Homo sapiens: one gene and its partner. The protein of the gene in region 1 interacts with the protein of each later gene in a pairwise test. Each region holds a gene or a part of one and is shown on either strand. Other genes may lie near its edges.

Region 1 (5,561 bases):
ATGAGGGGACTAGGGCCATATCGGAGGGGCAGGAGGAGACTCTGCCTCCCTTCCTTGACAAATATTTTTCTGGAGCCTCACATAGGAAATCTTTCAGAACAACCTAAATTTCCACTGAAAGGTTCATGTAGTTCACTTTTAAATGAGGTTAATATAAATTATATAAAGAATAAAACATGAGGCCAGGAGCAGTGGCTCACGCCTGTAATCCCAGCACTTTGGGAGGCCAAGGCGGGCTGATCACCTGAGGTCAGGAGTTCAAGACCAGCCTGATCAACATGGGGAAACCCCATCTCTACTAAAAATACAAAAAATTAGCCAGGCATTGTGGCGGGTGCCTGTAATCCCAGCTACTTGGGAGGCTGAGGCAGGAGAATCACTTGAACCCAGGAGGCGGAGGTTGCAGTGAGCCGAGATTGCGCCATTGCACTCCAGCCTGGGCAACAAGAGCAAAACTTCATCTCAAAAAAAAAAAAAAAAAAAAAGAATAAAACATGAAGAGGCAACTGAGTCTCATGCCAAATCTACTCCCCCAGGAAGTGGGGGAGCAGGATCTGGGCAGTGAACAAGCTCCCCAGGTGGTTCGTACCATCAGGCAAGATTGGGAGACTGGTGTCATGCTTAAGAGCATGGGCTTTGCTGGGTTCCATTGTCCTTTTACTTGGAGCCCTAGGAAGTCCCTTCTCTTCCTCTCAGCTCCATGTTACCTCCCTCTGCCCAGGGCCACAGTGTTAGAAAGGCAGACTTGGGCCTGTTGGCATAGCCACCTTTCCTCAACTACTCTCTGCAAGGAAAGAACATCCCCCACCTTCTTTCCCAAAGGTATATTTTTCTTTGCTCTTTTGCTTGCTTTCTGAGCCTTCTGCATCCCCCTTCCTTTATTTTAGGATAGTGCCCTGGTCCCAGATAGACAGTGAACTCATGTGTGGTAAAATAATCTCACCAGTGACTAATTTTCACTGTTGTATACTTGATTTAACTTGGAATTGTTTCTGATAATTTTATGACACTGTGAGAGCAAGGAGATAATACTGCATCTGCCACTTGCTGCTGTGTGATTTAAGGCAAGTCCTTTCACCTTTTTGAGATCCAGTTTCTTCATCTATAAAATGGGGATATTCATTCATTCAATCACTATTTACTGAATATCGGTTGAGTAAAGCACCTAGGACATATTCACATACACCTCACAAGGTCATGGTGGGGACTAAGCAAGATGGAGTATGTGGTATGTGGCTCATAGTCAACACCCAATACATGTTGTTGTTGCTGTTAGTTTTAGTCTATGAACAATTTTAAGCATCAAGTTATCAGTAATTCTGAGACTCACAATAAACAAATGTAGAAACTATTAACAAGTACTCAGGAAACACCACAATCCTTGCCTTTCATAAGTTAGAAGGCCAGCAGAACTCATTTCCTTGGGCAGGGACTTATGTGATGCCTGCCTTGGCTATGCTAAGGCTTTTGAACCAGCTCTAAATGAATCTCCTCATGGAGGCATGGCCAATTAATCACCAGGGTTGGTTTTTGTTTTGTTTGTCTCTCACACGAAGGCATCAAACAGAATAATTTTTACTACATTGGAATAATTTTTACTACATTACTACATTTTCTTACTGTTTCCTTGTTAAATGCTCTTTTATTGTTTCCAGCATTCACTCATTCATTTATTCAACAAATTTGTATACCACTGTGCAAGGTGCTAGGGATACAGTGGTATACCTCTCAAAGTCTCAGTCCTCATGGGGTTGACATTCTAGTGGGGTCTATAGATTGCCCTCACCCCTACTTCACACCAGACTGTCAAATGCCTGAGATCAGGGGCTGTGGTAGTGGCTCTTCCTTTGGATCCTCTCTATTTTTATTTTTTATGGAGATGAGGGTCTTGCTATGTTGCCCAGGCTAGTCTCTAACTCCTGGGCTCAAGTGTTCCTCCCGCCTTGGCCTCACAAAGTGCTGGGATTACATGTGTGAGGCACCACACCCAGCTTGAGTCCTCTCTTAAACACAGCACACAGAGCACAGCTTGGGGAACACAGGATGCCCTCCAAAAAGAATTCTTGATGGTTTAATGTATGCCAACGCTTAGAGTAATGTGCCAGCCATTATTCTAAGCATTGGTATACATTATTTCATTTACTCCTCACACCTCACCCAATGAGGTGGGCACTATTTTATGCTTATTTGACAAAAATGAAGCAACTGGGGCATGAAGTGGTTAAGAAATGTGACCAGGTTCCTGAAGCAAGTAAATAATAAAGCTGGCAATTGACCCTGAACCCAGGTCATGAAGATCCTCCTGTCATTCCACCCAGATTGTCCTCTTTTGTAAGTTCCCACTGACACCACTTTCAAATTGAGTGTGGAGCTCAGAGTCCTGGCCTCATGCCTCAGTTGACATTTTCACTGACTGCAGAGTCCTGGGGTGGCCCTATGTACTAGGCTGAAAACTGAACATCTGGGACACAGCAAGCTAATCCTCATCCTCATGAATTTCTTAATTTTTCTGGGTCACCTTGGCTATTTCAGTTAAGTCCAGCTCAGGTTAAAAAAAAAGAAATAAATAAAAGAATACTAGGCTGAAAACTGAACATCTGGGACATAGCAAGCTAATCCTCATCCTCATGAATTTCTTAATTTTTCTGAGTCACCTTGGCTACTTCAGTTAAGTCAAACTCAGGTTAAAAAAAAAAGAAAGAAAGAAAAGAAAAAAGAAACTAAGGAGAGTTTCTTCTATAGCAAAATAAAATTTTACAAGATAGGAAGTGCATATACTCTTTTTTGAGGCTAAAATGAAACAAATTCTATCTATGAAAACACTGAGTGATAGAAATAAGGCTCCCGTCCATTACTGGAGACTCTGGGTTTTATACTACCAGTGTCTCCAGTAGTAGACAGAAGCCTTATTTCTCAAGTTCGTTCTCAGGATACAGACACACACCATCAAAGGCTGGCCCAGATACCTACTTTCATTTGGAAGGCTGGTACTGGCAGATCCACGAGATACATATAGTTTCTTATCTAGAAAAGAAGAAGAAAACATTATTGGAACTGAAATTTCTAGGACTAGGTTAGAGAGTGCCCAGTAGCATTCCAGGGGCCCCACATTGCCTGGCCCTAAGTTTATGAATATCTAGCATATTCTCTCATATCAGATGCTACAAAAACTGAGAAGCTTCTGTTTTAAAGGTCCACCACCTTCCAAGGCAGTGTTCCTGATTAAGGGTCACTGACTTCCTCAACAGATCCTGGACTTCCAGTCACCAATTAATACAACTCATGTCAACATGAGTAGAGCATGAAGACCTTGGTGATAACCATTTGTTTGTGAATGTGTCTTGAGATTTCAGGAATAGGACAATGCCTGCATTAGTTTCACCATGATGTGCCTTGCTTACAGTAGATGCTCACTAAATATTTGCTGAATTGGACTTGAACTGTAAAGAGTTGCTAAGTTTGGAAGGTGATGATTTCAGCCATCTGTGTTCTAACCTACTGTCGAAACAGGGCTTTGCTGTGTGTATGCACAGGCATATATACAAGCACAGTTGGCCTAATTTTCCCTGTGAATCCAGTAGGAAAGGACTTTTGAAAAAGAGTAGAGGGGTAGGAAATTTCACAGGTTTCCCAAACATGACACTTCTATGATTTACTCCTTAAGTACATTCCTAATCAAATTCTGGAAATGACAGAGTGGTATTTTAATGGGAAATTTGTTTTCCACATTAGAATAGAACACAGTGCCTGACTTAGGTAGGCTATGCTGAACAGGCCTTTTGTTTACTATATGCTTAGTTCAGTGTAAAGATGGCTTCTAGTAATTTCTTTCAGGCATGGAACACTAGAACCACACTATGTATGGACAAGGAAGCTGCAAAAGAAAATTCGTCCAGAGTACAGAATGGCAGAGGATGCAGACTTGGTTCCATGAAACTATAAAATATATATTTATAAGTGTTTCATATTAAAGGCAAATCTTGCAACAGAGTAGGTTGATTTTTTGGTGGAAGTATAATTAATGCCAATTCTTCCCCGTCCTTTTACAAAGAAGGGAGCCTTGTTTTCTGATGGATATTTTGCATCTGGTAGGCGCAAATTAAATATTTGCTGGGTGAATGAGTGAATGAAGAGGTGAGTAAGCCTTAAGGGTGTTTTTAGTTCAGGGGAGGGGTGGTGGTCAGGGAGCAGGAACCCAAGGGAAACCAAGCAGGAGGATCCCAGAGTGCAGGAGCAAGCCAAGGACAGTCAGGCACTGTTAGGTCTCCAAGCAGCAATGGGGCTGCCTCCTACAGTCGCTTTGAATTTTAATGTGTGGAGCAGATGGTTGGTATAGATTGCCCTTGTTGTTTGCCTGGAGCCTGACATCACTGCAAGTTGCCAACCTGTTTAGAGGCTACAGTTTGAGCCTGTAGGTACGTCACAGAGCTCTGTTCTGCAAATGGCTTATTTAATTGCTCCCAATGAGGTAAACACAGGACCCTGCGATATTACGCAGCAGCCCATCATTTTTCTAAGGTAAGGCCAAGTTGACAGGCTAGGGTGAGTACTTCGGGCCAAGTCCATCTGGCTGGCTATCTATGTAACCCTTTAGCTATTAAACTGTGAATGTCAATGAAGCCTAGTGAAGATGTATGGAACATTTAAGCAGAACATCCCTTCCCTCAGCAGCCCTATGTCCAGAGTGGCAGCAATTAGTCTTGGCACCTCATCTCATGCCAACTCACTCTCAACCACAACCAATCAGAGGCACCCCTCCAAGTATCTGTAGGCATTTCCTTACAGTGAACTGAGCCGGGAGGCAGGTTGAAGAGCAACCCTGTGCTTCCAGCTATCTGGCCAGGGTTGCCATTCTCCCTGGCGGCAGATTCCTGAGGACGGGCTAGGCATCTGTCTTGCTGGAGGAGACTTAGGAGAGGCTCACGTTTCCCATCAGGCTGGGGCTCTGGAACCAGGTGCCGAGCGGGGAAGGGATGAGAGTAGCCAGGCTCTAAGGAGCTGGTGCCCGCCAGGGAGGAGAAATGCCACAGCTCCCCAGGCCGAACAGAGGCCCTCCTAGCCAGGGACGGTGAGAACTGATTCACAGCCATGGGACCAGGCACATGCAAGTTGCAGTTGGCGGCACGGTTTGTGACAGGTACTTCTGGTTGTGGCTTTGTCCATGGAGACGAGTAACGCCACTGATTTGGAGACATGCTATCATCTGAGAAGGAAAGATTTAGAAGACATGTTAGGTGTTTATTGTTTTCAAAATGGATGTAGTTTTTTTTTTAATACATACTCTATTTTTTTTAACTTGAAGGAAATACAGAAAAGCTAAAATAAAATCATCCTAATGATAATATCCAGAAACAGCCATTGTCCTCCGTAGGTGTACTGTTTCTAGGATTGGTTTCTATTCATGTATGCATTGTTTTCACAACATATATTGTTATTCAAGCCATTTTTGCTTCATTAAAATATCATGAAAAGCCTCCTATAGAAATGAATAGGCCAGGCACAGTGGCTCATGCCTGTAATCCCAGCTTCTTGGGAGGCCGAGTTGGGCAGATCACTTGAAG
Region 2 (3,500 bases), on another chromosome or scaffold:
CACAGAGCTGAGTCAATAACTCCCTATAAAACATCCGGATGTTACCAAGTGAACTTTTATAAGATTCTGTCTGTTGAGGACCACGGAAACAGACCAATACTTCTTGACTAGACTGAGATGAACTAAAGACAGGATCCAGCTTGCGGTGAGGTTTTTCCTTACTATTAAAGGGTAGTAGTTCATAATTTTTTTTATGAGAAGAAACTTACTGTGAGAGTTCAGCAGTTTCTTCATCATATATTTTTTTTCTCTCAGACAGTTCATCAGGCAGATACTTCACTATTAATTCTTCCAACAGCTGTGTGACACAGTACCTCCTATCTGCTAGATACTAAAAGACAATATTATTTTACATTCCAGCAGTGGTTTTCCTACAGTATAAAACAGGCAACACAGTTAACTGATATATTAAAGCCTTTATTACATACTTATACCATCAATTCTGGATTAATTAGTGAGGGGAACATTACAATGGATGATGCTAAGCAAAAAAACCTGTCTGAGGCTTTGCACAAGAGCAGTAAAGATAGTTGGCTGCAACCTGAACCAAGCCCTGTACAGAAGAACTGCTTCCTGCTGTGACCACAGCTTCTCTATTAGCCGCAGAGGGCCCTGCCCTGCCGTCTTCCACAACAGAGGCCCTTTTCCACCTGACAGCTCATGGGCACTAAACTATCATTTTAACTGAGATACAAAAACGGGATAAGGAATAAATAAAATAACACATTTGCCTTATTTAAGAAAAGCAAAACATCTGTTTTGTTCCCAATTTCAGACACAGTCTCTAGATAAATTTTCTTTCAGATTTTTCTTCCATTGTCACCCACTATTGAGTAGAGGAGCAGACCTCAACTCTGTCCTTGAGTGACCCAAGGAAGGTGCGTTTCTTGGGACACTATCACTCAGACCCTTATCAAGATATTGCTTTTCCTGTATGATCCATCTACCCCAGCTCTATATAAAATCTTACATTTGCGCTGACCCCTAAATACTCTGAAAAAGTACTATCCTCATGCATTTTTGTGTTATTCTCTATTCCAACTTACAAAAGCCATCTCTCTCACTCCTGCTTATGCAAAACATGTCTATCCTTCAAGGTCTGACTCCAATTTTACCTTTTTCACAAACTCTTCCTTAATTATTTTTTTCTCTCCCAAGAACCCATATTTTACTGTTTTTACCACATAGTAGGCATTGTAGCGTGTAGTATATGTACACAGATATATTACATCTCTGTAGTTAAACTAAAAATTGCTTAGGGTAGGGCCAGGGACATGGTCAGGGTGTATGCACAGAACTTTGTACAAAGAAAATGCCCAATACATATTTATTTCATAAAATTAGTGAGGAAAACCTCCTGGGAAACTATCACAAGATGAAGCCATCCTTGAATCTGCAGTCAGTAAAAGCAAGGGTTTTGTCATTATCCAATGAAGAGTAGATGGGGAAATGCGAGAGGTTGGGAAACTGGTGGTGGTTTTCAAAGTTTAGCATGAATCGCGGCTTGTTAAAATACAGACTACTGAGCCCCACGCCAGAGTCTCTGAGCATCTGGGGTAGGGTCCAAGAATCTATGTTTCTAACAAGTTGTCAGGTGACAGATGCTGCTGGTCAGGGGAGCATGGGGAGAGGTGGCCTTGGGCAGGTAGTATATACACAGATAATAAGTGTTTATCACAAAATTAATCAAATTAGCTGTCATAAAAGCAATTCCATTATCATTTTCTATTAAGTTAATAAAGATGTTTAAACATCTAGGGAAATACAGCCACTCTTACATTACTGATAAAAATCTCAATAAATGTAACATTTCTGGGGATGAGGCAATCCAACAATTGGTTTTAAGGGCTTCATAAATATATGGCTTTTGATCCAATAATTCACCTCCCAAAAATTTAACCTAAGGAAATGGTTATTGCCTTATTTAAGAAAAGCAAAACATCTGTTTTGTTCCCAATTTCAGACACAGTCTGTAGATAATTTTTCTTTCAAGTTTTTCTTCCATTGTCACCCACTACTGAGTAGAGGAGCAGACCTCAACTCTGTCCTTCAGTGACAGATATATAATATCTGTCATAATATCTTCGATTACATAAAGATGCATAAAATCATTCATTTTAAATGATGTTGGCAAAAGCATAGTATATAAAAAAGAGAACAAGAAACCTTATATATCCAACAACAAAGAAATGTTAAATCACTGGACTATTATGCTGCTATAAAAACAATGTATCTAAAATAGATGGAAATGGAAAAATGAGCAAAATAAAATGACAAGTAGGAAAAATGTAAAACTGAACAGCATACCAATCTTTTTTAAAGTATATGTATTTTGAATTTACAAATTATATTACGCAGGGTATCTTCAAAGTTGGAAACAGGATATTGCTAAATAGTATGTTAGTTATACTTTCAAAAAATATGCTTAGTATATATTTTTCAATCTCCAGACATTTTTTAAAGAGGGAATATCCCTAATCAAAGCAATAGATCTAATATTATGCCAAAAACCACAATTACTTTTGCACCAACCTAACAGTTAATCTGGAAAAACAAGCATCATAGTTATCCTGGGGGGGTATTTAAATGAAGTCTGGAAAAATAGCATGTTTACAGTACTTCATCTAAAAACATTGAGCATATTAGCTAAAAATGTAACTAACAAACTCTTTTAAGAATAAATGTATCTGATGTTTCCTGACTTTGAGAAAATTCTAAATATGCTTTTGTTTTACATATCAGCTTGTTATATATGTAAGACACATATCAAATGTAATAACAGACATGCTATTATGACATCCGTACTGAGTTGTTTTCTATACAGGAAATACTGTATGTATATTCATAATGGTTTTATGAATTTTTCAATTCATATTTGGAAGATACTTTTTTTTAAGCAATCCTGTCAATCACCAGAGACAGAATCACTTTCCCCAATCAACGCTACAAACTGCAATTGCCTCTCAGAATCACAGGCTTTAGCCTGACAGTAGGTGATCTGCAGTCACTCAAGCATGATTAAGAGGGTGCTCTCTTCTCATCAATTAGAGAAGACATCCACTGAGATCTAGCTACTTTCCTATCACAGGTTATTAGCACTGATCACTGACTCTACAAGAAGGGGAATAGGAAGCTGTACCTCCCTCTCTTCTTTCCAATCTACCACTTTTCTAGAGCTGCATTGCCCAATGTCGCAGCCATTAGTCACATGTGCCTACTTAAATTTAAGTTAATAAAATGTAAATATAGTTCCTCAGTGACACTAACCATATTTAAAAGCTTAACAGGCAAACATGGCTAATGGCTAATATATCTGACAGCAAAGATATGGAACATTTCCATCAATGCAGAAAATTCTATTGAACAAAGTTGTTCTAGATGTTGAGGAAGCTGAAACAGTCCTCACATCTGGCTTATTATTGAGGGTTGGAGGCAGGGCAATAGGGTTTCCCCAGTATAGTCATCACCAAAATTGAACTTATCCCTGACCAGATAACTAA

Evidence for each region. The genes of interacting proteins can lie anywhere in the genome.
Region 2: the proteins of VGLL1 (region 1) and LONRF1 interact in binary tests that used the Homo sapiens proteins (3 or more experiments, as listed by UniProt).

The regions. Positions count from the first base shown.
Region 1 is NC_000023.11:136,548,231-136,553,791, reverse strand, and holds part of VGLL1 (transcription cofactor vestigial-like protein 1), read right to left. Parts: intron 5,204-5,561; coding exon 4,784-5,203; intron 3,025-4,783; coding exon 2,971-3,024; intron 2,915-2,970; exon of another isoform or gene 2,832-2,914; intron 1-2,831. UniProt on the Homo sapiens protein: May act as a specific coactivator for the mammalian TEFs.
Region 2 is NC_000008.11:12,731,527-12,735,026, forward strand, and holds part of LONRF1 (LON peptidase N-terminal domain and RING finger protein 1), read right to left. Parts: intron 332-3,500; coding exon 210-331; intron 1-209.